2 separate regions of the Homo sapiens genome follow, and region 1 is linked to region 2. Evidence: fine-mapped expression QTL. A gene starts in region 2. The other region holds a variant in brackets. All regions are shown on one strand. Distances are between the middles of the regions.

What was found.
Region 1: its variant is fine-mapped to the expression of DAZAP2 in microglia (Young 2019, PIP 0.95).

Annotation. Positions count from the first base shown.
Region 1 is chr12:51,207,377-51,223,474 of GRCh38, reverse strand. POU6F1 (POU class 6 homeobox 1) reads left to right here and starts at 5,413. Exons shown (of 11, transcript NM_001330422.2): 1 at 5,413-5,833. RefSeq lists silencers at 2,953-3,132, 5,240-5,389, 5,590-5,749, 5,980-6,239 and an enhancer at 5,030-5,089. The variant G/TG (reference allele first, on the strand shown) is at 7,920.
Region 2 is chr12:51,228,882-51,242,333 of GRCh38, reverse strand. It overlaps DAZAP2 (DAZ associated protein 2), which reads right to left and starts at 3,508. Exons shown (of 4, transcript NM_014764.4): 1 at 3,414-3,508; 2 at 1,873-1,991; 3 at 1,218-1,463; 4 at 1-4. The coding sequence starts at 3,426. RefSeq lists enhancers at 1,909-2,545, 3,262-3,511, 3,435-3,729, 3,821-4,458 and a silencer at 3,602-3,711.

The sequences.
Region 1 (16,098 bases), 20 kb after region 2:
GAGACGGAGTCTCACTCTGTCACACAGGCTGGAGTGCAATGGCACGGTCTCAGCTCACTGCAACTCCAGGTTCAAGCGATTCTCTTGCCTCAGCCTCCCGAGTAGCTAGGACTACAGGCACATGCCACCACACCAGGCTAATTTTTGTATTTTTAGTAAAGACGGGGCTGGGCGCGGTGGCTCATGCCTGTAATCCCAGCACTTTGGGAGGCCAAGGTGGGAGGATCACGAGGTCAGGAGATCAAGACCATCCTGGCTAACACAGTGAAACCCCATCTCTGCTAAAAAAAAAAAAAAAAAAAAAAAGAAAAATACAAAAAAATTAGCCAGGCGTGGTGGTGGGCACCTGTAGTCCCAGCTGCCCGGGAGGCTGAGGCAGGAGAATGGCATGAATCTGGAAGGCAGAGCTTGCAGTGAGCCGAGATCACGCCACTGCACTCCAGCCTGGGTGACAGAGCGAGACTCCGTCTCAACAAACAAACAAAAAAGTAAAGACGGGGTTTCACTATGTTGGCCGTGCTGGTCTCAAACTCCTGACCTCGGGATCCACCTGACTCGGCCTCCCAAAGTGCTGGGATTACACCCGTGAGCCACCGTGTCCGGCCAAATAAAACTCTTCAACAGGATTCTCAGCCCAGCACGTTTTCGTTTTCTCCTTCACTCACATTTCCCCAACTTTCCGAGCCTTCATTTATTCAATAAGTAATTATTATCTACTGTGTGCCAGATAACTGGGCTTGGTGCCAAATGTCCAGTCAAAAACAAAATGGACTGTTGCCTTGGAATTTACTGCCTACTCGGTAAACATATTAAATAGAAAATAAACATACAAATACATCAGCACACATGGTGATTAAGAAAACGGGAAGGTGATACGAGACAAAATAACACTGAAGTGCAGGGAAAATGTCTCTGAGGAAGGAAGCCATATATAAGGCAAGGCCTGAAAGATGGGCTAAGGAGGAGGCAGAAGAAACAGCATAGGCAGACACAATGAAGGCAGGAAAGAGCTCGAAGTTTAAGAACCTGAAAGTGGATCAGTATCGATGGGTCTTAGTCCGTTTGGGCTGTTATAACAAAATACTATAGGTCGGGTGCAGTGGCTCACGCCTGTAATCCCAGCACTTTGGGAGGCCGAAGCAGGTGGATCACCTGAGGTCAGGAGTTCAAAACCAGCCTGGCCAACATGGTGAAGACTCATCTCTACTAAAAATACAAAAATTAGCCGGGCATCGTGGTGCATGCCCGTAATCCTAGCTACTCGAGAGGCTGAGACAGGAGAATAGCTTGAACCCGGGAAGTGGAGGTTGCAGTGAGCCAAGGTCTCATCACTGCACTCCAGCCTGGGTGACAGAGCAAGACTCTGTCTCAAAAAAAAGTAAAATTTTAAAATAAAAATAATAAAATATTAGGCCAGGCGTGGCGGCTCACACCTGTAATCCTAGCAATTTGGGAGGTGGAGGCAGGCGGATCACCTGATGTCAGAAGTTTGACATCAGCCTGGCCAACATGGTGAAACCCTGTCTCTACTAAAAATACAAAAATTAGCTGGGCACGGTGGCACATGCCTGCAATCCCAGCTACTTGGGAGGCTGAGGCAGGAGAATCGCTTGAACCCAGGAGGCAGAGGTTGCAGTGAGTGGAGATCGTGCCACTGCACTCCATCCTGGGCTAAAGAGTGAGACTCTGTCTCAACAACAACAACAACAAAAGCCAGGTGCGGTCTTTGGCATGCCCAGGCAAAAAAAGAAAAAAAAATTTTTTAAGTAATATACTTTGTTTTTTGTTTTTGAGACGGAGTCTCACTCTGTCACTGAGGCTGGAGTGCAGTGGCACCGTGTCGGCTCACTGTAACCTCCGTCTCCTGGGTTCAAGCAATTCTCCTGCCTCAGCCTCCCGAGTAGCTGGGATTACAGGAGCCCACCACCACGCCCGGCTAGTTTTTATATTTTTAGTAGAGACGGGGTTTCACCATGTTGGCCAGGCTGCTCTCGAACTCCTGACCTCAGGCGATCCACCCGCCTCAGCCTCCCAAAGTGCTGGGATTATAGGCATGAGCCACAGCGCCCAGCCAAAAAGTAATAAACTTTCATTGCAAGAAGACTACCAATACCACATACTGGTGAGGATGTAAAACAATTAGAACTCTCTCATGCATTGCTGATAAAGATATAAATTGGTTCAAACACTATAGAAAACTATTTAGCAGTATGGACAAAAGCTAAATAAAATAGAATAGCTATTCTACTCCTCAGTATTTACCTGGAAGAAATAAGTGCATATGTTCACCAAAATACTTGTACAAGAATGCTCATAGCAGTTTTATTCCTAAGAGGCCCAAACAACAAGCAAATGCCCATCAATAATGGAATGGATAAATTGTAGTATAATTATGCAATGGAATACTACACAGCAATAAAAAATACTTCTACATTCAACAACATGGATGAATCTCAAAAACATATATTGAGGCCGGGTGTGGTGGCCGACACCTGTAATCCCAGCACTTTGGGAGGCCGAGGAGGGCGGATGACTTGAGGTCAGGAGTTCGAGACCAGCCTGGCCAACATGGTGAAACCCTGTGTCTACCAAAAGTATAAAAAATTAGCTGGGAGCGTGGTGGCTCATGCCTGTAATCCCAGCACTTTAGGAGGCTGAGGTGGGCGGATCATGAGGTCAGGAGTTCAAGACCAGCCTGACCAACATGGTGAAACCCCATCTCTACTAAAAATACAAAAATTAGCCGGGCATGGTGGCGTGTGCTTGTAATCCCAGCTACTCAGGAGGCTGAGGCAGGAGAATCACTCGAACCTAGGAGGTGGAGGTTGCAGTGAGCTGAGATCACACCATTGCACTCCAGCCTGGGCGACAGAGCGAGACTCCATCTCGAAAAAAAAAAGAAAAAAAAAATTAGCTGGGCGTGATGGCACGCACCTGCAGTCCCAGCTACTTGGGAGGCTGAGGCAGGAGAACCACTTGAACCCGAGAGGCGGAGGTTGCAGTGAGCCGAGATCACACCACTGCACTCCAGCCTGGGCGACAGAGCAAGACTCCGTCTCAAAAAAAAAAATTTTGTTGAGTGACAGAAGCCAAACACAAAAGATTGCATATTGTCTGATTCCATTTATGAGAAGTTCAAGAATCAGCTCAAGTAATCAATCTATGGTGACAGAAATCAGAATAATGGTTACTTTGGGAATTTATGGCCGGTGAAGGTACATAAGGGAATCCTCAGGTCTTGGAAAGGCTCTATATCTTGTTTTGGGTGGGGATTACATGGATATATATATGTGTGTGAGTATATACATGTATATATAGACATGTATATATGTATACACGTATCTATACACGTGTATATATGTATACACACACACGTACATATGTATACACACACATACACGTACATATGTACACACACATATACACGTACATATGTATACACACATATACACGTACATATGTATACACACATATACACGTACATATGTATACACACATACACGTACATATGTATACACACACATACACGTACATATGTATACACACACATACATACACGTACATATGTATACACACATACATACACGTACATATGTATACACACATACATACACGTACATATGTATATACATGTAAAAATTTATCAAGGTATACACATACTGTGTACATGTTATGCCCCAATAAACACAGAAACAAAAAGTAATATATGCTCATCAAATATTTAAGCAATGCAGAAGTGTATACAACATAAAGAAAACCGTGATTAACATTTTTATGTATGTCTCCCTGAACTCCTCTGATCACATCCATATTTCTTTCTTCAAACTGTCGCTGATATCCATGCTATCCAAAGCCTTTGATCTATGTGTAGCACCAAACCAAGTGACATAAATGAAAAGTTTCAACCTTCATGTGACAAAGTTCAGCAGCAATACTGAGCCCCTCCTTCACATAAAGAGTAGTGGGAAATACAAACATGAGTAAGTCACAACCAGTGCTCTCAAAGAATTCACAGTCCAGGGAGAGAAACTACAGGGACTACCGGCCAAACAAAAACCCCAAGAACTGTAATATCAAGCCACGCAGTAGAGTTTCACAGGGCCATTAAAACGAGTTCAAACTATTGTACAAGGAATGACACCTTACAGTTGTATAGAGCTTGCAGCTTTCAGTTTTTTCACATACAGGCTCACAAACTTAACCCTATGAAGTAGTCATTATAAATGTCATTATAAATATTATCCTTGTTTTATAAGTAATGAAGAAGTTAAATTACTTGCCTGGACGGCTAGTGGAAGAGTTGGGACTAAAACCTAAGTATTCTGACTCCTAATACATTGGTTACTCATAAATCCGCCGCCAGCAGTACCTGCTCACTTCCAGATGGAAACAGCAAGCTGATAACAGCCTAGTCCACTGGCCAGGTTAACGACGAGGCCGGGCCATTCAATGCCCTTCCACCACGAGGCCTTACGGAGCAGTCCCGGGGAGGACTGAGGCCTCCAACTGCATTCTCACACTGCCTCTAACCCATCTACCTCTAGCTATCCTCAGACCACCAAATATCGGGAGAGGGTGGGAGGGGGAACAGCCTAGGATGACAGCAGGTGGCCTCAGTATTGGGATCCACATTCACTGGATTTACAGAGCCTCCTTCCTTCCCAGTTCTTCTCTCCATTCCCACGCTTCCACTTTGGTCTTCCAACTTTTTCCTCTTTCAGTTGTCCACCACTTCTCCAATCTGCTTTCCCTCAGCCACCCACATCCACCCCTTTTCTGGTCCCCTCTCTACCTTAAGAAGCTGCTAGAGGTTTTTCACCATTCCACTGAACTTTGTCTTTCTGTTCACATTTCCTTGTCTACTTGGACAAGAAGGCCGGAAATCTGCTTTTAGACAACACAGCCCACGGCCGCCACCGGGTGAGAGACCTGGGACCCTTCGCTGCTTTGGCGCTGGGGCACAGCTGTTCAGAGGTTCTCCACGTTGGCTGAGCGATGTCTGAGTTCCCCCGCCTTTCTAGGGAGGGAGGGATAGACATAAACTTGACTTTCAACATTGAGGACAGTTGACTACCTAGAGGAAAGGCGGTGGCCGGGAGTCACCGCCCCAACCCTCAGCTGAAGGCCATGTGGCATGGAGGGTCCGGACTCCAGCTCCTACTCTGGCACCTTCCGAAATGAAACCACCTCCGCGGCACCTCGGAGGGGCTGAGTAACCAGACCCACTGACCGTCCATCCCTGTCCCGGGAGAGAGCCTCCGGGACCTCCCGCTCGGCCAGGGCCAGAGGGTCCCCTCCCCACCCCCACCCCTCGCTCCTGGCTCCCGTGCTCCCCTCCCTTCCCTGACCGCCCTCCCAGCCCGCCGCCCCCGGCGGCTGGCGCGGGCGGTGCAGCATGCGGCAAAGCTCTTTGCATAAATTATGCTCATGACGCAGCAGCTAAAAAAATCCAAGTAGCAGAAGGAGGGAAAAAAGGGGGGGAGGGAAAAGGGGGGGGTCGTGGAAGGGGGAACGAAGAAAAATATATACCTGACCGCCCCCCCACCCGGCTTCCCCTTCCCGCTTCCCGGCCGTCCCCTCTCCGCCCGGCTTAGCCTGCGGAGCCCCCTTCGGCTCTGCCCAGCCCAGGCTGGGGGCCTGGGGGCGGCGGCGGGTCCCGACCAGCTCCCGGGCCGAGCCGAGCCCAGCCAAGCCGCACTGGCTTCTTTGTCTGCGGGCGGCGGCCGCCGTGGCCCCGGCCCCGGCCCCGGCCCCCTGGCCCGGGCTGTGAGATGAATCTCTAATCGGTGGCCGCCAGACACCCGCGGCGAAGGCGGCTCGGGCTCGGGCTCCGGTAAGTAGCGGGGTCCGGGGCGGGGAGGGGTTTGCACGGAGGGGGAGGGGGCCGGGCAGGGGAGGTTTCGGGTTTGGTTAATATGCAATGCCCGTAATTAGCATAATTTATATATTTATGATAAAGAGAAAAAAAGCCGCGGGGCCGGGGCGGCGGGATGCTGGGCCGGGGCGGCGGGGAGCTGCGGGAGCGGGACAGCGCGCGGTTGCCCAGCTGGGGCTAGACACCCGGGGGCCGCGCCCTCGCCCGCCCGCGGGCCGCTCTGGACCTGGAGCGGAGGGGGCGGCCGCCAGGTGGACCCGGTGGGGAACCCCGACCTGGCCCCTCCCCGTTTCTGCCCCTGGAGCCCTTGTGGGGTGCGGACCACAGGGGACGCTCTGTACACAGAACCAGTGGCGACCAGAAGCGGATCCTTGCCTCTCTGGAGAACACGGACGCCTGGGTTCCCGGCGGTTAGGGCCAGCTGGGGCGGCCAGGGTGACCTGTCACGGTTCTCCCGAATGAACAAACTCCGGGACGACCGGTGGGACCCGGGGGTAGGGACCCAGGCGTTGCTGGAAGGGTGGGTCAGTGATGGGAGGGCCACCTTCTAGCAGAGCATGAGCACTTCATAAATATTTAATATCGATATTATTATTAATAAATAGTCATAATAATGGGCCCGATGCAGGCTCCCTGGGCAGGCTCACCTGGCAAGGCCAAGGGAGCTCCCAGCATACCCTCTAACCTCCACTTTCGCGGCAGAATACCCCACTCAGCCCGACTGGAAGCCTAAAACCTTCACAGAATAGCCTCTGCGGCTGGGCAGGGGGAAATCAGAAGAGTTCGGGAAGCATTCCTGGGCCAAAGAAAAGAGGCTCTTTGCAGAGATTTTTAACCTCATCTGCCCTTCCCAAATTCCTTGTTCCAAAAGTAGAGGGCTGGTCTTCAATTGTTCATATACATGTGTCCCATGCCCCTTATTTAGCAATCTAAGGCAGCCACCATTGACTGGCAGAGGCCTTCTGAGGAATAATTCCATATATTCCATTTTCATTCAAGTCCTGGTCCTCAAAGTGATACTTCTGTGACCTGGTACTCCGCTTATCTGCTGTAGAACTTCATTTCTTCATTAGTTCAACAAAAATACCCACTCAGTGCCATGCTCTGAACAATTCAGACAAAACTTCTATCATGGAGTTTTTATTCTGGGGGTGGACAAGTAGATGCTAAACATTAAAACTAACAAGGTAATACCATAGAGTGATTGTGTGTCAGTGTGTGTGTATGTAGCCATTTATTCTGTTTTGTTCCTGGAAGTACTAGCTGGCAGTTAAGAAAAGTGACTCAGAAAAAATTTGCTCCTGTAAGGTTTTTCTGCATTTTGAAGGAACTTGGGATAAGCTCATATTCTTGTCCCCAAGATTTACTCACCATAAAATTATCAGAGTAATCTTTTACATTTTCTTTTTTTTGAGACAGAGTCTAGCTGATTTTTTTGTATCTTAGTAGAGATGGGGTTTCACCGTGTTGCCCAGGCTGGTCTCGAACTCCTTAGCTCAGGCAATCCAACCGTCTTGGCCTCCCAAAGTGCTGGGATTACAGGCGTGAGCCACCGTGCCTGGCCATCTTTTACATTTTTAAAATGCTTTATAATTTAAAACATTTTTATATGCATGCTTTACTTCAGTTCAAAATAATAGCAATGATAATAACAAACATATATATAGTGTTTGCTTCATGCTAGGCCCTGTTTTAAGTGCCTTCCATAAATATTATCAATTTAATCCTCACAATAACCCATGAGGTGGTTACTATAATTTGGTTCCATTTTGGATAAGGAAACGGAGGCTTATAGGGATTACCTCTAGTAGAAGCAGTACTCAAGCTGGGTCTTCTGCCTTTAAACCTGCCTTTGACCCCTCATGTCAAAATGAGGGTTCATGAGGCAGAAGAGAGAGTGGGATGCAGGAGAAACTGGCCACAGGAGGAAGGCTTGGAATGAGAAATTAGACGGGCGCTTTAGGAAGGGGCCAGTGTGGTCTGGGTTCTCCAGAACCCAATACTACACCTTGGAAATCTCTCTTTTTTTTTTTTTTTTTTTTTT[G/TG]AGACAGGGTTTCACTCTGTCGCTCAGTCTGGAGTGCAGTGGCGCGATCTTGGTCTCACTGCAACCTCCACCTCCCGGGTTCAAGCAATTCTCCCACCTCGGCCTCCCAACTAGCTGGAACTATAGGCGCACACCACCATGCCTGGCTAATTTTTGTATTTTCAGTAGAGACGGGGTTTCACCATGTTGGCCAAGCTGGTCTTGAACTTCTGACCTCAAGTAATCCGCCCGCCTCGGCCTCCCAAAGTGCTAGGATTACAGACGTGAACCACCACACCCGGCCTGTACCACGTCTTTGAAATCATTTTTAAGTAGCCCCAGTACTGGAAATGGAGGCAAAACATTTGAAGTAGGGTGTGTGTTTTGAGGGAAAAGGTAGGAAATAATAAGAGGCTAAGTGATGTGGCTATGACGTGACCTCGTATCTTCAATTGTTTTCAGCCCATATTCATGAACCTAGTTATATACCAGATATTATCTTAGGCACCAGGGATATGATGATAAGCAGACATGATCCCTGCCTTCCTGGAGCTTACAGTCTACTAGGAACATACCTACTTTTCATTTTTCACATTTCTTTTTTTTTTCTTTTTTGAGACAGGTTCTCACTCTGCTGTCACCCAGGATGGGGTGCAGTGGCACAATCTTGGCTCACTGCAGCTTCACCTTCTTGGGCTCAAGCGATTCTCTGGCCTCAGCCTCCCAAGTAGCTGGGACTACAGGCCTGCGCCACCACACCCAGCTAATTTTTTATTTGTTTGTTTGGGTTTGTTATGTTTTGGTAGAGATAGGGTTGCACCATGTTGGCCAGGCTGCCCTCCAACTCCTGACCTCAAGTGATCCACCCGCCTCAGCCTCCCAAAGTGCTGGGATTACAGGTGTGAGCTACTACCCTTGACTCTACTCTCCTATTTATTTGGTCACCTCATCATTCTTTTTCCTTTCTCTGGCCTGTGTGTGCCTAGCTGTTAGCCTACCAACAGCTTGGCAAGACTGTTATCTCTGCTCATGGTTCAGGGTGTGGGGACAGGCGTCGGTGTGGAGCAGAATTGAGATCCTCTGTTTTCCAGTGTGTCCTGAGCCTTGGGGACCAGAGCAGTCCCCATCAGCCTTACCCCCATTTCCTGAGAGGAGGTTCTGTGTGGTGTCAGGAGGATGGGGTCCGGGGCAGGTCGACAGAGCCTTGAAGTTTGAATCTGCCACTGACTCTCCTGTGCCCTTGGTCAAGTCACCTGACCTCTCTCTACCTCTATGTACATATAGATAAAAATGAAGATGATTGTGGTAAGAGTCATGCTAAGCATTTCATTTACATGATCTCATATCACCATCATAACAATCCCATAGGGCTTGCCTATTTAATCACCATTTTATTTATTTATTTATTTATTTATTTTTATTTATTTATTTTTTTGACATAGAGTCTCACTGTGTCTCCCAGACAGGAGTGCAATGGCATGATCTCGGCTCACTGCAACCTCCGCCTCCCGGTTCAAGCGATTCTCCTGCCTTAGCTACCCAAGTAACTGAGATTACAGGCACCCGCCACCACACCCAGCTAAGTTTTGTATTTTTAGTAGAGATGGGGTTTCCCCATGTTGGCCAGGCTGGTCTTGAACTCCTGACCTCAGGTGATCCTCCTGCCTTGGCCTCCCAAAGTGCTGGAATTACAGGTGTGAGCCACTGCGCCTGGCCTAGTCACCATTTTAAAGATAACGAAATTAGGCCGGATGTGGTGGCTCACGCCTGTAATCCCAGAACTTTGGGAGGCCGAGGTGGGCAGATCACAAAGTCAGGAGTTCGAGACCAGCCTGGCCAATATGGGGAAACCCCGTCTCTACTAAAAATACAAAAATTAGCTGAGCAAGGTGGTGGGCGCCTGTAGTCCCAGCTACTCGGGAGGTTGAGGCAGGAGAATCGTTTGAACCTGGGAGGCAGAGGTTGCAGTTAGCCGAGATCATGCCACTGCACTCCAGCCTGGGCAACAAGAGCAAGTCCTCGTCTCAAAAAAATAAAATAAAATAAAATAAACCATAGAAATGGGCCAGGTATGGTGGCTCATGCCAGTAATACCAGCACTTTGGGAGGCTGAGGTGGGAAGATAATTTGAGCCCAGGAGTTGGAAACCAGCTTAGGCAACATGGAAAGACCCTGTCTCTGAAAAAAAATGATAATAAAACCAGAAATGGATCTGAGTTTAAAAGTCTGAATCCCATACAAGTTCCATTTTCCTACATAGGACAAGATTCTTTTACATAAAATTTCATGTCTGAAATACAGGCCTCCCTGGGAACAAGCACCACATAAAACTGCATTAGAGGCCGGGCGCGGTGGCTCACGCCTGTAATCCCAGCACTTTGGGAGGCCAAGGCGGGTGAATCATCTGAGGTCAGGAGTTCCTGACTAACCTGGGCAACATGGTGAAACCCCGTCTCTACTAAAAATACAAAAATCAGCCTGGTGCGGTGATGCGCACCTGTAGTCCCAGCTACTCAGGAGGCCGAGGCAGAAGAATTGCTTGAACCTGGGAGGCGGAGGTTGCAGTAAGCCGAGATCCCGCCGCTGCACTCCAACCTGGGTGACAGAGCGAGACTCCGCCTCGAAAAAAAAAAACAACTGCATTAGGTCATTAGGTGTTAGGTGTCCCTCTTGTAGATTCTTTACTGCTTTCTGTTCACCCACCATGAAACTTAAGCATACTGTATTGTAGTTACCTTCTTATTTCCTTGACTCCCATATTGGACTATAGCTTTCTTTTTTTTTTTTTTTTTTTTTTTTTGAGACGGAGTTTCACTCTTGTTGCCCAGGCTGGAGTGCAATGGTGCGATCTTGGCTCACCTCTGCCTCCCTGTTGTTCAAGCGATTCTCCTGCCTCAGCCTCCCGAGTAGCTGGGATTACAGGCATGTGCCACCACCCCAGGCTAATTTTGTATTTTTAGTAGAGACGGGGTTTCTCCATGTTGATCAGACTGGTCTCGAACTCCCGTCCTCAGGTGATCTACTCGCCTCAGCCTCCCAAAGTGCCGGGATTACAGGCAAGAACCACCACGCCCGGCCTGGACTATAGATTTCTTGACAAAGGTGGGAAATGTGTTTTCCCCATTGAATTCCCAGTGCCTAGCACATAGTAGCCACTGAAACATGCGTTGAAAAAACAAAGGTTTGGCTGGGCGCAGTGGCTCATGCCTGTAATCCCAGCACTTTGGGAAGCTGAGACAGGCAGATCACGAGGTCAGGAGTTCGAGACCAGCCTGGCCAACATGGTGAAACCCCGTCTCTACTAAAAATACAAAAATTAGCTGGGCATGGTGGCGCGCACCTGTAGTCCCAGCTACTCAGGAGGCTGAGGCAGGAGAATCACCTGAACCCGGGAGGCGGAGGTTGCGGTGAGCCGAGATTGTGCCACTGGACTCCAGCCTGGGTGACAGAGCCAGACTCCGTCTCAAACAAACAAACAAACAAACAAACAAAACAAAAAAAACAAAAAAAAAAACGAAAGGCAAGGCATTTCAGGATTTCTTCTAATAGGATCTCAGACTATTCTAGGGAGTTCTGATTTGTTTGGGATATCCCAGTTCTCCTCCTGGGTATCTTGGAATGTTGCACTAAGCCCAGAGCAGTTCCAGAGGAGAATGACAGGCAGAACTAGGTCCTCTAGCTCATTCTCCCCCGCTGAAAATCCTGCATGGCCCTGGACCTCTTTGGATTCTCAGGTGGTAGGCAAATGCCTTAGCACTTGCTGTTCCTTCTACCCCTGAGGCTGCTTGGGTTTTTGTTTGTATATTTATTTATTTATTAGGGACAAGGTCTTGCTCTGTCAAGGAGTGCAGGCTGGAGTGTAGTGGCGTGATCACGACTCACTGCAGCCTTGAACTCTGGGGCTCAATCAATCCTCCTACCTCAGCTTCCCAAGTGGCTGGAACCATAGGCGTGTACCACTACACCTGGCTAGTTTATTTTATTTTTTCAATTTTTTGTAGAGACAGAGTCTCCCTGCATTGCCCAGGAAGATATCAAACTCCTGAGCTCAAGCAATCCTCCCCCTTCAGCCTCCCAAAGCATTGAGATTGTAGGTGTGAGCTACTGTGCCCAGCCCTGCCTGCGTTTTTAGATGTTAGCAAGGAAAGCAAGGGATAAGTGAGCCATTTGCTAGCCAACCAGAGTGCCTTGCCAGCCCTGATCCAGGCGTTTTTCAAAGTCAACTCACTGGAGAAAGAAGGCAAAGGAGAGGGCCCTTGGTGGGCTCTGGCTCTCTCCCCAGCTTTAACCAGAGCAGCTCTGCTGTGATCTGTGTATGTATTGGGATTCTACTGCTGGGATGGGGACAGGAGCTCCTTCTCTTGAAACAGACAGCTGATTGTCTCTCCTCCCTGGCCTTCAGGCTGTGGGCACTGCACAGCATCATGGGCTTAAAGGAGGCCATCCAGATGTGCTATTTATGCAGTCATTGGGGAAATGGTCAAAAAGCAAACTGAAGAGGGCTGTCTAGTCACTGGAACCAAGCCACAGCCTGAGGCTCAAAAAAAATTTGGAAAGTTCCTGACAAGGAGATGGCAGCAGGTCCAGAGGAAAGTCTGCACAGATACCAAGCAAGGGGAACACACAGGGTACAGCTCAGAGTCAAAATGCTGAGTGTCTACTTGTCAGAGAGACGTTGATATCACATACATGTGTAATAGGAGCCATCTAAAGGTAAGACAGAGACAGACAAGGGAGTCTGAGATCTGAGACAAAGGAGGTCTTGGACTCTGCTCTGCCTGGATTTCTGGTGGGCTGAATGAAATCTGGTGGGTGGGTTGGAGTGGGCTTAGGTGTGGCTAGAGGCTATGTCTCAGGACTGACTTTGCCCTTGACTTAAAGGACCAGACACTGAGGACCCAGGTCCTCAAAGCTCGTCAAATTTTAAGGGTGAAAGGGATATCAGAATCACCCAAGCCTTATCACTACCTGAATCCTCCTAATAACACAGTCACAAAGTGGACGCTTGCCCCTGCTCAGCCACTCCCTGTGAGTGGCCATAGTTGGCAGCAAGGAGCCAGACGCCACAACAAGACTATGAGCAGACTTAACGCTCCTCTCAAGCAGATGCCTTGTTGTCCTACAAAGATTGGCTACTGCTGCCTTACGCCTAATGACCTTTGGAATTGGAAAATTCTTCTCCCCAAGAAATGTATGTATCAAGCTATAATGCACCCAGATTCACCTTGTGCAGCTTTCATTTCAATTTTGTCTCTTCCTCTTATTTTCTTTGCAAATGGCTTCTATGTGTAACGACTTTCATAGCTTATCCCAGTTCCTACCCAGAAGTGATGGTAAATTGCCAAGTTCTCTGAAAAACTCATGGAAGACTACCATGTACAAAATCTGGGGAGACAGGAGTTTAAGACTAGCCCTGGCAACATAGTGAGACCTCATATCTACCAAAAATAAAAAATAAAAAAAATTAGCTGGCCATGGGTAGTCCCAGCTACTCTGGTGGTTAAGGTGGAAGGATCACTTGAGGCTGGGAGTTTGAGGCTGCAATGAGCCATGGTCATGCCACTGCATTACAGCCTGGGCAACAGAGCAAGACCCTATCTCAAAACAAAAAAAAAATCTGAGGGGAGACATCACCTAAGAAGGAGGCTAGAGCCCCATTGAGGTAGTTAGATGCTCACCAGTTCTTTCAGCAAATTCCTCTGCCCCTCCTGCACCCCCTCATCCTACCTGAAAGGGGAAGGCTCATTTCCTCTTTTTTCAAATTGTTAGGTACCTGGAATTGCTTGCCCTCTCTTGAATCCCACTCTAGAGGGGTTAAGGAAGGAAGAGGAGGGAAAGAACCTCATGGTTCTCCTTACCTGGTTGATCAGGGAACATTCTGCCAAGCAATGAAGATGCTAAAACCCCAGGGGTGATCCAGCAATTCCATTCCTAGGTATATACCCAAAGAATTGGAAGCAGGTGTTCAAAAAAAATTATACCCAATAGTCATAATACACTATTTGCAATAGCCAAAAGGTAGAACAACCCAAATGTCCACCAACTAATGAATGGATAAACAAAATATAGTGTATCCATACAATAGAATACTATTCAGCCATGAAAAGGAATGAAGTTCTGACACATGCTACAATGTGGATGAACCTTGGAAACATGCCAAGTAAAAGAAGCTAGACACACAAAGCGACATATTCTATCATTCCATTTACATGAAATATCCAGAATAGGGAACCCCATAGAGAAAGCACATCAGTAGTTGCCAGGGCTTGGGCGGTGGCAGTGGAAGGTGAATGACTGTTAGTGGATATGGAGTTTCCTTTTGGGTTGATGAAAATGTTCTGGGACTAGACAGTGGTGATGGTGGCACAAGTGTGAACCCACCAGATTCCACTGTACGGAGCACTTTAAAGTGGCTAAAATGGTTAATTGTATGGGATGTGAATTTATCGTAGTCTGTTTGGGCTGCTATAACAAAATACCATAAACTGGGTAGCTTTTAAACAACAGAAATTTATTTCTCATAGTACTGAAGGTGGGAAGTCCAAGATCAAGGTGGTGTTGTCTGGTGAGGACCCACTTCCTCACTGACAGAGCCTTATTGCTGTGTCCTCACATAGTCGAAAGGGTGAAAGTATCTCTCTCACACTGGGGTCTCTCTGTTGCCCAGGCTGGAGTGCAGTGGCGAAATCACTGCTCACCACAGCCTCAACCTCCTGGGCTCAAGTGATCCTCCTGCCTCAATCTCCTGAGTAGCTGGGACTACAGGTATGCACCACTACGCTCAGCTACTTTTTGTACTTTTTGTAGAGACGGGGTTTCACCATGTTGTCCAGGCTAGTCTCGAACTCCTGGGCTCAAGCAGTCCACCTGCCTAAGTCCTGGGATTACAGGCATGAGCCTTGGTTCTTTTTTATATGGGCACTAATCCCATTCCTAATTACCTTCCAGAGGCCCTATCTCTTAATACTATCCACCTTGGGGATTAGCATTTCAACACATGAATTTGCGGGGAAGGACACATTCAGACCATAGCAGAAAGGAAAGGTGAATCCAGAACACCCCTCTGGGCTTTGTTTCACCATCTGTAACATGCGGATAATAATGCCTCCCATTCCCCACGCCCCCAGGGTTGGCATGAGTAATACAGCAAGCAATTGTGTTATATAAAATGTCTAGCATACAATATGCACTCGAAATAAATGTCAATTGCTTTTTTTCCTTTAAAAGTGTCTAAAGCTATTTGCCTGATTCTCTGTCTCTCTCTCTCTCTCTTTTTTGAGACAGGGTCTGGTTCTGTAACCCAGGCTGGAGTGCACCACTCACTGCTCACTGCAACCTCTGCCTCCCAGGCTCAAGCGATCTTCCCACCTCCCAGGCTCAAGCGATCTTCCCACCTCAGCCTCCTGAGTAGCTGGGACTATAGGCATGCGCCATCATGCCCAGCTAATTTTTTTTTTTTTTTTTTTGGTACAGACAGGGCCTCACTATGTTGCCCAAGCTGGTCTGGAACTCCTGGACTCAGGTGATCCTCCTGCCTTGGCCTCCCAAAGTTCTGGGATTACAGGCGTGAGCCTCTGCGCCCAACCTATTTTCTTTATTTCTTACGACTGTAGTTTGTGGCTCTAGTCAGACAACCTGTCCTCACATGAGGGCTTCACCCACTCCTCACTGCACAGGGCAGGCTGTTCCACCATCTGGGATGTCCCACCTCCTCTGTTACAGGCCACTGTGGTCTTTGGGCCACTGTCACAGAGTCACCTGAGAGCTGATTCTGTGATGTTCACCCACTGAATCAGACTCTCTGAGAGTAGTTGGGTGAAAAGGTCTAAGGGTCTGCATTTACATTTTTATTTTTAAATTATTACTCTGTATTTTATTTATTTAGTGAGACTGAGTCCCACTCTACTCTGTACTTTAATTGATATAAATACTAACATTTTTACTAAGTGCTCCAGGTGATGATCATGCATATTAAAGTTGGAGAGCACTTTAATTTATGTTTTTACCATCTATTCCAGGAAGTCTGCCCAGATTTCTCCCTTGCTCCTTACCTAAGTCTAAGGTTCTGAGGGTCAGGGTCAGATTCCCATTGGGTTCTGCTGGGTGTGCTCTCCCACCGGACTGGGGAGGCCCCAGGGACAGATATCTTGCCCTTTCTTTACTCTCCTCACCCTAAGCCCAGATGTTCCTGGTACTACTG
Region 2 (13,452 bases):
GAGGCTGAAAGGAAATGACATGATAGAATGGGCACAGGGCAGCTAATATAAGCGAAGGGGACATAGGGGAAGCAGAGGCCTGTTAGGATGAGGCAATGTGCTAACCAGCTGCGTTTTAAGGAGCTAGTTCCGCCACCAATTTGAGTTCTAAAGTAGGTCTATACTTTATGTGAACCCAAAGATACAAACAGGAAAGGGAGCCTACCACTCATTCAAAGGGTTCCAGCTCTAAGATGAAGCCTATGGCTACCTTCTGAACATGAACAGACCAGACCAACAGTCATTTTGAGGGTAGAGAACCACTGTCCTACTCACATTCCCAAAACAGGGACAGGGTGCCAGTCCATGTATGAATCCCACATGGTCCCTACATAGTTTTTAATTTTTAATTTTTTTTTTTTTTAATTTTTTTGAGATAGAGTCTTGCTCTTGTCGCCCAGGCTGGAGTGCAGTGGTGGGATCTCAGCTCACTGCAACCTCCACCTCCCAGGTTCAAGTGATTCTCCTGTCTTAGCCTCCCAAGTAGCTGGGATTACAGACGCCTGCCACCATGCCCGGCTAATTTTTGTATTTATAGTAGAGTCGGGGTTTCACCATGTTGGCCAGCCTGGTCTCAAACTCCTGACCTCAGGTGAGCCACCGTGCTTCGCCCTTACACAGTTTTTGAATGAACTACTGGAAAACTGAAGGCTCGCTAATGACACATTCACTTCATCTCTAGCATGTAGTTACTGAGCAGTCATTTGAGCTCTAAATCCCACGCACTGGGGAATTAAGTAGGAAAAAATGATAACTAAAATTGTTAATATCTTTCTAAAAGCTACTTACTAGGGATTATACATTCTACTTTTTTAATTATCAGGGTTCCTAGTGCAACACCATGCTGATGGCAAATATTAAGTAAATGGTAAATGCTTATGGAATGAATAAGGAGCATTACTAGACCAGTTCAGTGTACCACAATGAACTGGAAAAGCAGCAAGCAGGACTCGACAGACATGAAAACAAAAGAATCTGGTTAACTCAGCCCCCAGTGAGATGCTACTCACTTGCCACAGTTCTGCCCCCTCAAACACTTTCTGCCTGAGTATTGGATGTCAGTAGTTGTACCAACACTGGCAACTATCATCCAGAAATGGTAAGAGAATGAATATGAAGTCATTTCAGAAAGTTAAAATACACAAGGGCTGAGTTTCTTCTGATGAGGTCATACTCACAGGAATGTTGCCAGCAGTAGCCCCAGCTCCAAATCTGGCACCTGCATCATACCCTCCTTCCACCAGCACTGTGGAGCCAGGTGGATAGATGGGACCGACTGGATAATAAGCCATGGGGATTGTGGAACCTAAAGGCCCAACAGCCACAGACTGGGCCATGGGAAGATACAGAGAGGCTCCAGGAAATGCGGCTGACATGGTGGGGACTGTGGCAGCCCCTGGGTGCACAAAGCTCGGACGATAGAGCTAGAAGAGGCAGAAGAGAAGGCAAAATGTTACTTTATGACATTCCTATTTGAGATCTCTTTAATGAGCTAATTCTTAATTCTCCTTATGCAGGTTATACTTTTTGTAAGATTATACAAGTTGCCTTTCCACTGGCCTTCAATATTCTCCTGGATCACTTTCTGCTATAGCTAATGTTGGGCTCACAGAACGCAAATTCATCTTCTGCACCTTAGCCTGTGCCAAATAACACAAAATCATCAAATAATGCACTTTCAACTCCGACAAAAATTGCCAAATTATATAGTGTTTTAGATTATTCATGTTAGCATTTGTGAAGAGTAAATATGTGAAGTCAGATTTAGCTAAGGACTAAAGGACCACCCTAAGAGTATTCCCAGCTAGTTCAAATCTGGCAAACTGGAAGCACCTCTGAGTAGGCAGGTGGAGCATCGGTATAGGGTGGAGCCTGAGGAAGATGCAAGGTCTGAGGGTATACTGGATTCCCAGGAGGCTGCACAGGGTAGGTTGGCTGTGTTGGATATTGACCTGAAAGACAAGAAAAAAATGAAGGTTGCCTACTACACAGAGCTACCAAAATGAGGCAGGTCATATCGGGTAGCTAACTTAGTGGGAGCAAGCAGAAGGGGATTTGCAAATAGTCTGCCCCAGAGGGCCTGATTCCTGGAACTAAGAAAATATGCATTGTCTTTGCACCCTTAAAATGGAAGGTGCTGGATTCTAACGAGACAAGAAAGGCACTGCTCACTGCTCCTACTAACATACCGAAGTAAGGGGTTAAGTCTACCTGGGCCCAAGTTCCCTCCGGAATGCAGGACAGGTCTGGGGTTCTGGCCTGCTGCTGTTCTGGCTTATCAAGGGTGCCTCTGCTCTAGGTAGTCTCCACAGCCTGTCTACAACCAGCCCAGACTTCGTGGGTAACAGCAGTTCTGATTTTCCTTACAGATTACTATTCAAGGTCGACTTCCAAACAAAGGGTGTGAATGATGGAAGTGAACCGTGAGACTGGGAAAAGGGTGCAGGGCTGAGGGGTGAGGAGGAATATCCTCACTGGAAAAGCGGGGGATCAGGTTTGGTTTTTTGTTTGTTCTGAGACGGAGTCTCGCTCTTTTGCCCAGGCTGGAGTGCAGTGGCGCGATCTCGGCTCACTGCAACCTCCGTCTCCTGGGTTCAAGCAATTCTCCTACCCCAGCCTCCCGAGTAGCTGGGATTACAGGCGCCCGCCACCACGCCCAGCTGATTTTTGTATTTTTTAATAGAGACGGGGTTTCACCACGTTGGCCAGGCTGGTCTCGAACTCTTGACCTCAGGTGATCCGCCCGCCTCGACCTCCCAAACTGCTGGGATTACAGGCGTGAGCAACCTCGCTCGGCCTTTTTTTTTTTTTTTTTTCTATTCCTTTTTTACCCCCTCAACCTATTCCTGCGTTATGGGAATCATGTTCCGACAGACACACTGGTACAACCACAGAAAAGGGGAGAAGTTCTGATCCCGTCAGCGAAGGGCGAGGGGGTGCGAAGGGAAGGAAAAGAGACCTCACAGGCCCCGGCCCACGAACCAACTCCAGCAATTCAGTAGTTAAGTTCGGCCCCGCTGGGGGTTCCGGAGCGCGGCGCCCCGCCTCCGCCGGCTCTCCATTGGCCTACGCGAATGCCTGCGCTAGCGCTCTATTTGCTCCTGCGGATGCCCATCATGTCAAGCCCCCCCACCACCCGAGCCCGCAGCTCCAAACTGCGCCACAGAGTTTACGGAGGAAAGGGCCTGGAGGCAGCAAGCTGCCGTAATTTGGGTATGACGAAGGCGTCAGGCGCAGCGCCCTGGACTGCAGCCGGCCAAGGAGCATGGCGCAGCCCACCCCAAACCTGGCGTTTGGTGACCCTGGGCTCCGAATCCGCTCGCTCTGGGCCAGCAGTACTCCCCCCGACGGCCTCTGCCACCCTCGGTCCTTGCCTTTGCTGTTCATGGTGGTTGCGGGTCCGGTTTGTCTCGGCGTCGCGGACGGTTATTTTTTTCGTCCTCTTCCTGTTCGGAGCTACTTCCGTGTCACATGATGGTCCGTCCGCCTAGCGTCACCCGACGCCCGAGTGGCGCTGCCGCCGGAAACTCCGCCCCTGCTCCGGGCCTCCAGTCGGCCGCGGGAGGGTCCGCGCGGTCCCGCCCACTCGCCTTGGCCCCACCCCCTGCTCGTTTCTGTCCTCCCCCCCCCTACCGGTGTCCCTCAGCTGGAGAAAAACCAAATGCAGGTATTGTCTGGAAACAGGATCTTTTCTCTGTTGGACGCTCGGATGCAGAACGATGCAAGCATTCCCCGGAACCTTTTTCCACCTACACGCATTCACTCAAGGTCACCTCACCTTGGCAACCTTCCACGAGGGGCTTAGATTTCTGCAAATTTGTCGCACTGCCTGAAATCGGCTCCCCACACCTTAGTTTATCATGCGTCCCTCCCCACCAAGCCCAACTTAAGCTTCAGCTCTGTTAAAATTTATTTTGCCACTCCAGCTCACATGTATCCTTTCCTGAATGAGACCTGCACTGGAATCTTCGCTGCCCTGTCTTCCCCAGGACAGTCGTTGCCTTTCTCACGTACAGGAAGGGGTTATGTTTTCCGTGCTGTACGCAACACCTGGCACTGAAACTGACATAACTGCACTACCCATGGAGTGTTTGTGGCCCTTTCCTTTTTTTAGCACCTGTTGCAGGTGACCTGTATGGTACCTCTATTTTTCTCTATGTATGGCTTCTCTTTCTAACCTAATTATCCTTAAGGGCAAAGATGGCATCCTTTAGGGCAGCGATTAAGTGTTTTCTTTTCTTTTTCTTTTTTTTTTGAGACGGAGTCTTGCTCGCTTGCCCAGGCTAGAGTGCAGTGGGGCGATCTCACCACAGCCTCCACCTCCCGGGTTCAGGCAATTCTCCTGCCTCAGCTTCCTGAGTAGCTGGGCCTACAGGCGTGCGCCACCATTCCTGGCTAATTTTTGTATTTTTAGTAGAGACGGGGTTTCACTATGTTGGCCAGGCTGGTTTTCTTTCTTTCTAAAAAAAGTTTTAATTTTTTCTTTTCTTTTTTTTTTTTTTTTTTTTTTTGAGATGGAGTCTTGCTCTGTCGCCCAGGCTGGAGTGCAGTGGCATGATCTCGGTTCACTGCAACCTCCGCCTCCTGGGTTCAAGCAATTCTCCTGCCTCAGCCTCCCGAATAGCTGGGATTACAGGTGCCCGCCACCACGACCGGCAAATTTTGTATTTTTTAGTAGAGACGGGGTTTCACCATGTTGGCCAGGCTGGTCTCGAACTCCTGACCTCAGGTGATCCACCTGCCTCGGCCTCCCAAGGTTCTGGGATTACAGGCATAAGCCACTGCGCCGAGCCTTATTTTTATTTATTTATTTATTTATTTATTTATTTATTTATTTATTTATTTATTTTTGAGACAGAGGCTTGGTCTGTCGCCAGGCTGGAGTGCAGTGGCGCAATCTCAGCTCACTGCAACCTCCGCCTCCAGGGTTCTAAGCGATTCTCCTGCCTCAGCCTCCCGACTAGCTGGGATTACAGGCACGTGCTATTCATTTTTTAATACAGAGATGGGGTCTCCCTGTGTTGGCCAGGCTGGTCTTGAATTTCCAGCCTCAAGCGATCTTGCCACCTCCATTGTCCAATGATTAAAGGGTTAACTCTTAGGACCCAGGAACTCTCCTGGGCCTACCTCCTGCTCATGTAAACTGCCCTCAGATTGGTCAGGCCTACTTTACAGGTTGTTGGGTATTTTGCTTGTCACAGTGGGACCTGGGCATTGGGAAAACCAGGGCAGAGCCAAATGAGATTACTAACAAAAATGAAAGAGTTGCAGGCCAGTGCTTTCTCTGGCAGGTGGAATTAAGAAGTAAATGGTGGCTGGGTGCAACAGCTCACACCTGTAATCCCAACACTTTGGGCAGCCTAGGCAGGAGGATCGCTTGAGCCAGGAGTTCAGAACCAGCCTAGGCAGCATAGTGAGACTTCATCTCTACAAAAAAAAGTAGTAGTAATTAGCTACTTTCTTGAACAGGATCAAACTTTGGCATTTTCTTCATTCTCGTAGATTCCCCAATGAGATGAAGATGTTTATTTGGTCATTTATCAAACATTCTTTCTTACATTAATTTAACAAATATTTTTTGAGCACCTATTATGTGCCAGGCCCTGTGACAGGCACTAGGGAAATAATAATGAAGAGACAGGCATAGTCCATACTCTCATGGAATTTATGGTCTACCTAATGGGAGAGACAGAAAAGTGAACACATAATATGATTAGTGCTGACATAAAGACAGCATGGAGTGTGAGGAGAACACATAGGTGAGGCACCTACTCTATTCTGATGTAGTCAGGGAAGGTTTCCTGATGCAAGTGATGTCTGAGATGAAATCTGAAGGGTGAGAGCAGGTTAAGCAAGTGAAGAGGGTTCCTGGAAGAGGGAACTGCTTATGCAAAGGCCTAGAGGTGAGAAGGCTTATAGAGGGGGAGGGCATGAAAGAGTTCAGTGTAGCCAGAGCATACTGGTAAGGGGACTGATAAAAGATGACCCTGAAGATCCGGGTGCGGTGGCTCATGCCTGTAATCCCAGCACTTTGGGAGGCCAAGGCGGGCAAATGACTTGAGGTCAGGAGTTCGAGACCAGCCTGGCCAACATGGGGAAACCTCGTCTCTACTAAAAACACAAAAATTAGCTGGGCATGGTGGTGCGTGCCTGTAATCCCAGCTACTTGGGAGGCTGAGGCAGGAGAATTGCATGAACCTGGGAGGCGGAGGTTGCAGTGAGCCGCGATCGTGCCATTGCACTCCAGCCTGGGTGACAGAGCAAGATTCTGTCTCAAAAAAAAAAAAAAAAAAATTGACGCTGAAGAACTGTGAGCCAGACCTTGCAGGGACGCCTTAGAGCCCATGTAAGATCCCACATGAAGATACTGGATTCTATGTTAAGGGCACTAGTTAGCCACTGAAGAATGTTAAGCAGGAAAGTGATATGATCTTGTTTTTGTTTGATTGATTGATTGATTGGGACAGGGTCTTGCTCTGTCACCCAAGCTGGAGTGCAGTGGTGCAGTCACAGCTCACGGCAACGTTGAACTCCTGGTCTCAGTTCATCCTCTCACCTCAGCCTCCCGAGTAGCTGGGACAGTGGGTGCTTGCCACCATGCCTGGCTAATTTTAAATTTTTTATAGAGACAGAGTCTCACTTTGTTGCCTAGAGTAGTCTAGAACTCCTGGCCTCAAGCAATCCTCCTGCCTCGGCCTCCCAAACTTGGGATTACAGGCGTGATCCACTGCTCCTGGCTTGTGTTTTTCTTTTAGAAAAATGCTTCTGGGCCAGGCACAGTGGCTCATGCCTGCATTCCCAACAATTTGGGAGTCCAAGGCAGGAGGATTCTTTGAGCCCAAGAGTTCAAGACCAGCCTGTGCAACGTGGTGAAACCCCATCTCGGCAAGAAATTTCTAAAAAAGTATCCAGGCATAGAGGCACGCACCTGTGATCCCAGCTACTCGAGGGGTTGAGATAGGAGGACTGCTTGAGCCCGGGAGGTCGAGGCTGCAGTGAGTCGTGGTCACACCACTGTACTCTGCCAGCCTCGGTGATAGAGGCTATCTCAAAAAAATAAAGAAAAGAAAAGGAAAAATCCCTCTGGTTGCTAAAGAATATAGAATAGGTTAAAGAAAGGGCAAGAGTGGACGTATGTCTGAGATACCATTTAGAATCAAATTTAGTCATTTAGGTGTGATGATGGCAGACTGGCCTAGGGAAGAGGCAGTACAGTAGAGAGAAATGGGGGGATTCCAGAAATATCCAGGAAGCAGAAACAACTGGACTAGTTCCAGGACTAATGTCAGGACAAAATTTCTACAAAGTCAAAACTCCATATAGTCAAATGACAAATTGGAAAAATATATTTGTAATTTACATCACAAAGAGCTAATCTTCCTGCATGTAAAGAACTCTTAGACATCAGTAAGAATATGATCAACCATTAGAAAAAAATGGCAAATGACATTTACAGACAGACAGTTCACAGAAAAGGAAAAACAAATGACTCCCTAACACATGAAATGATGTTCAGCCTGGGTCGTAATCAGAAGGCAGATTAAACCCCACCGATATCATTATCAGATTGGCGAAAATCCAAACATTTGCTAACATTATTTGCAGGGCTGTGGATAAGCAGGCATTCTAATTTGTTGGTGATGGGGGTGAAAATTGGTACAAATCCTATAAGGTTAATTTGGCAATATCCATCAAACTTGCAAACATACCATTCCCACTAATGGGAGTGATTCTACAGATATATTTGCACTCACGAGAAACGTATGTATAAGGCTATTCATTGCAGCTTTTCTGTAACAGCAAAAGATTAGAAATAACCCATATTTCTATCAATAGGAAACAGAAAAAATAAATCTTGATACATCCATACAATAAAATACTATGTGGCTGCAACAGAGAATGAGAAAGTACTCCAAGGTGTTCTTTAAATAAAAAAGGGAAAGATTCAAAACCATATACTTAGTGTGATACATTTTATTTATTTTATTTTTTATTTTATTTTGAGACAGAGTTGCACTCTTGTCACGCAGGCTGGAATGCAGTGGCGTGATCTCGGTTCACTGCAACCTCTGCCTCCCAGGTTCAAGTAATTCTTGTGCCTGAGCCTCCCAAGTAGCTGGGATTACAGGTGTGCACCACCATGCCTGGCTAGTTTTTGTATTTCCAGTACAGGCGGGGTTTTGCCATGTTGGCCAGGCTGGTCTCGAACTCCTGGCCTCGAGAGATCCACCCGCCTCGCCCTCCCAAAGTGCTGGGATTACAGGCGTGAGCCACCGCACCTGGCCAATATGATACTTTTTATGTCAAAGAGCAGGGAAACCAAGAATATTCATCAGAATTTGAGTAAAGAAATTCTGGAAGGATACACAAAATACCTATAAAAGTGGTTACATAAGGGGGAGAGGGAGTGGAGGATGTGAGACAAAGGTGGAAGTGACTTTTTACTATATACTTTTTAGACGTTTAAAAATATTTGAACCTATAATCCGAGCACTTTGAGAGGCCAAGGCAGGAGGATCACTTGAGGCCAGGAGTTCGAGACCAGCCTGGGCAACATAATGACACCCCATCTCCACACACACAAAAGTAAATCAATTAGCCTGGTGTGGTGGCACATACCTATAGTCCCAACTACTTGGAAGGCTGAGGTGGGAGGATCACTTGAGTCCAAGAGTTCGAGGCTGCAGTGAAGATAATGGCACCACTGGGCTCCCGCCTGAATGACATAGCAAGATCCTGTCTCAAAAAAAAAAAAAATGAGGCTGGGCGCAGTGGCTCACGCCTGTAATCCCAGCACTTTGGGAGGCCAAGGCAGGCAGATCACCTGAGGTCAGGAGTTCGAGACCAGCCTAGCCAAAATGGCGAAACCTCGTCTCTACTAAAAATACAAAAATTAGCCAGGTGTGGTGGCACACGCCTGTAATCCCAGCTACTTGGGAGCCTGAGGCAGAAGAATCGCTTGAATCTGGAAGATGGAGGTTGCAATGAGCCGAGATCAAGCCACTGCACTACAGCCTGGATGATGCTCCAAAACAAACAAACAAAAACATTGAACCATGTGAATGCTTACCTAGTCAAAAAATTAAAACAATGTTGGCTTCCCTATTACAATGGCTAATATTAAGACTGGACAGGGTGCAGTGGCTCACACCTGTAATCCCAGCACTTTGGGAGGATCACTTGAGCTCAGGAGTTCAAGACTAGCCTGGGCAACATGGTGAGACCCCATCTCTGTTTAAATTTTAAAAAATAAAAATAAGTAAAAGAAGACTGACCACATCAAGTGTTGGAGAGGATGTGGAGGAAGTGGAATTCTCACACACTCTGGTTAAAATCTTAAATGGTGCAACCTCTGTCAGGGCAAACTGCTGGTCATAATAAGAAAGAACAAAATGGTGCAACCACTTTGGAAAACAGTTTGGCAGGGTCTTTAGAAGTTAAACATCCATACACCACATGATCTAGCCATTCCACTCCTAGGTATTTACCCAAGAGAAAAGAAAACACATGGGTACACAAGGACTTATACATGGATATTTATAACAGCTTTATTTGTCATATCCAAAAATCAGAAGCAATGAAAGTGTCTACCAACAGGTAAATGGATAAACAAATTTAATGCCATACAGTAGAAAGGAATAAAGTATGGATCCACAAAACAACATGGATAATCTATGCTCAGTAAAGGAAGCAGATTTTTAAAATAAGAATACATACTATAGAATTTTTTTTTTTTTTTTAGATATAGGGTCTTGTTATATTGCCCAGGCTGGAGTGCATAGGCGTGGTCATAGTTCATTGCAGCCTTGAACTGGGCTGAAGGAATCCTCCCACCTCAGCCTCTCAAGTAGCTGGAACTACAGGCATGTGTCACTGTGCCCGTTGGATTCCATTTATATACAATTCTAGGAATACAAACTATAGTGATAAAAAGCAGATCAATGGTTGCTGTGAAGGGAAGCAGAAGGGGAAGGAAGGAGGTTGTAAATGGAATGTAGGAAAGTTCTGGGACTGATGAATATATACTCATTGCCTTGATTGTGGTGATGGTTTCATGGGTGTGCCTTTTTTTTTTTTTTTGAGATAGAGTCTCGCTTTGTTGCCCAGGCTGGAGTACAGTGGCGCAATCTCGGCTCAATGCAACCTCCACCTCCCGGATTCAAGCGATTCTTCTGCCTGCCTCAGCCTCCTGAGTAGCTGGGATTACAGGTGCCCGACACCATGCCTGGCTAATTTTTGTATTTTTAGTAGAGGTGGGGCTTCACCATGTTGACCAGGCTGCTCTGGAACTCCTGACCTCAGGTGATCTGCCTGCCTCAGCCTCCCAAAGTGCTGGGATTACAGATGTGAGCCACCGCGCCCAGCTGGGTGTATATTTTATTTTATTTTGTTCATTTATTTATTTGAGATGGAGTCTCGCTCTGTCGCCCAGGCTAGAGTGCAGTGGTGCGATCTCAGCTTACTGCAACCTCCACCTCCTGGGTTCGTGCCATTCTCCCGCCTCCGCCTCCCGAGTAGCTGGAACTACAGGCGCCCGCCACCACGCCCGGCTAATTTTTTGTATTTTTTATTAGAGACGGGGTTTCACGGTGTTAGCCAGGATGGTCTCGATCTCCTGATCTCGTGATCTGCCCACCTCAGTCTCCCAGAGTGCTGGGATTACTGGCGTGAGCCACTGCGCCCGGCCGGCCGGGTGTATATTTTAAACATGAGCAATTTATGTCAACTAACAATACCTCAATAAGGCTGTTTTTTTAAAATAATAATGTTGGGATGAGGAAAACCCAAGCATGATGGCTAATGAATTTTTTTGTTTGTTTTTTGAGAGGGAGTCTTGCTTTGTCACCCATGCTGGAGTGCAGTGACATGATCTCTGCCCGCTGCAACCTCCACCTCCCAGGTTCAAGTGATTCTCCTGCCTTAGCCTCCCAAGTAGCTGGGACTACAGGTCCCACCACGACACTGGTTAATTTTTGTAATTTTAGTAGAGACAGGGTTTCACCATGTTGGTCAGGCTGGTCTCAACTCCTGACCTCAAGTGATCAGCCCACCTTGGTCTCCCACATTTTTGGGATTACAGGTGTGAGCCACTGTGCCCGAGCTTTAATTTTTTTGTTTTCATTTTTTTTTTTTGAGACAGGGTCTCACTCTGTCACCCAGGCTAGAATGCAGTGACACGATCATGGTTCATTGCAGCCTTGCTCTCAGAAGCTCAGGCCATCCTCCTGCCTTAGCCTCCTGAGTAGCTGGGATTACAGGCGCGTGCCACTATGCCCAGCTAATTTTTGTATTTTTTGTAGAGATGGGGTGTCGCCGTGTTGCTTAGGCTGGCCTCAAACTCCTGGGCTAAGGGATTAGCCTGCCTCAGCCTCCCAAAGTGCTGCGATTACAGGTGTGAGCCACTGTGCCCAGTCGACAGCTAATGAATCTTAATGTGCCTTGGGCAAGATGGATGCTAAAAGGAAAATTACAGCAGCACTTGGTAAGTGCCACATTGGAGATGGGTAAGCTGTGATGTGAGGACTCACAGAATGATAGTGACTCTTCCTGCTGGGCCCCCTAGTCCAGGGGTGTCCAATCTTTTGGCTTCCCTGAGCCACACTGTAAGAATTGTCTTGGGCCACACATAAAATACACTAACACTAATGGTAGTTGATGAGCTAAAAACAAAACCAAAAAAATCACCAAAAAATCTCATAATGTTTTAAGTTTACGAGTTTGTGTTGGGCCGCATTCAAAGCCATCCTGGGCCACATGTGGTCTGCAAGCCGAGGGTTGGACAAGCTTATCCTAGTCCCGGTTAATTAGGTTGACTATAGTTGTTTATGTACCTTTATTCAACACCTACTATGTGTTGTGCTCTTCACTTATGTAACCAGAAGAACAAAACAACCTATTTCCTAGCCCAAAGGAGTTGGAGCTTTGTGAAAGAATCCAATCTCTCTTAGAAGCAACTTTTTTTTTTTTTTTTTTTTTGAGATGGAGTCTCACTCTGTCACCCAGGCTGGAGTGCAGTGGTGCGATCTTGGCTCACTGCAACCTCCACCTCCTGGGTTCAAGCGATTCTCCTGCCTCAGCCTCCCGAGTAGCTGGGATTACAGGTGCGTCCCACCACACCCGGCTAATTTTTGTATTTTTAGCAGAGATGGGGTTCACCATGTTGGCCAGACTGGTCTTTAACTCCTGGCCTCAAGTGATCCGCCCACCTTGGCCTCCCAAAGTGCTGGGATTACAGATGTGAGCCACTGTACCCGGCCTCTTTGAAGCAACTTTTTCAAAGCTTTATCTAGTCTTTGTGTAACTAAGGGAACAGCTATTATAAGATATATGGCTTAGGCCCAGGCACAGTGGCTCACGCCTGTAATCCCAGCACTTTGGGAGGCTGAGGCGGGCAGATCACTTGAGGTCAGGAGTTTGAGACCAGCCTGGCCAACATGGTGAAACCCCGCCTCTACCAAAAATACAAAAAGTAGCCGGGTGTGGTGCCATGCACCTGTAATCCCAGCTATTTGGGAGGCTGAGGCATGAGAATCACTTGAACCTGGGAGGCGGAGGTTGCAGTGAGCAGAGATCATGCCATGCCAGTGCACTCCAGACTGTGCAACAGAGTGAGAATACATCTCAAAAAAAAAAAAAAAAAAGTACCCTCATTTCTTATTCCTGGCAAGCCTTGTAGGAGAGTCACTAACACTGCTCTGCATAATAAATGTAAAACAGTTAGCCAAGCATGGTGGCACAGGCCTGTAGTCCCAGCTACTAGGGTGGCTGAGGTAAGGATTGCATGAACTCAGGAGTGCAAGGCTGCAGTGAGCTATAATCGCATGACTGCACTCCAGCCTGGGTGACAAGTGAGACCCTGACTCTAAAAAAATTAAAAATTAAAAAAAGTAAAAAAAAAAAAAGGCCAAGCACAGTGGCTCTGTAATGTCAACATTTTAGGAGGCCGGGGCAGGAGGATTGCTTAAGGCCAGTAGTTCGAGACCAAAGGTTATCCAGGGTACTCAGAAGAGCAGAGCTTCATCTGTGTCTTACTCAGACTGGAGGGAATACCAGCCTCCCCGAGACAGTCCTACTTGGAGGGACTATATGCCAAAGCTCATTCACACAAGGCTGCTGTGCCACCTTCTCCCTGTTGCACCGGGCCCCACGCACATACACACATACACAGTCACTGACTCACTCTCACCCCTCTAGCCTTAAATCCAGAATCTAGACTGAATATGGACTGAATGGGTCAGATTTGGGGAAATGTGTTTCTGGGGACAGCTGAGGGACCAGAGAGAGGCAGGGCCTGGGGCTTCCCAGGAAGGAATGGAGGGTTGAAGATGTTCCTAGCGAGGGAAGCAGACCTGAGGACAGGGAGCCAGGGTAGACCTGACACTCCGTAATAAAGGTTAAACTTCTTGGCGGCTT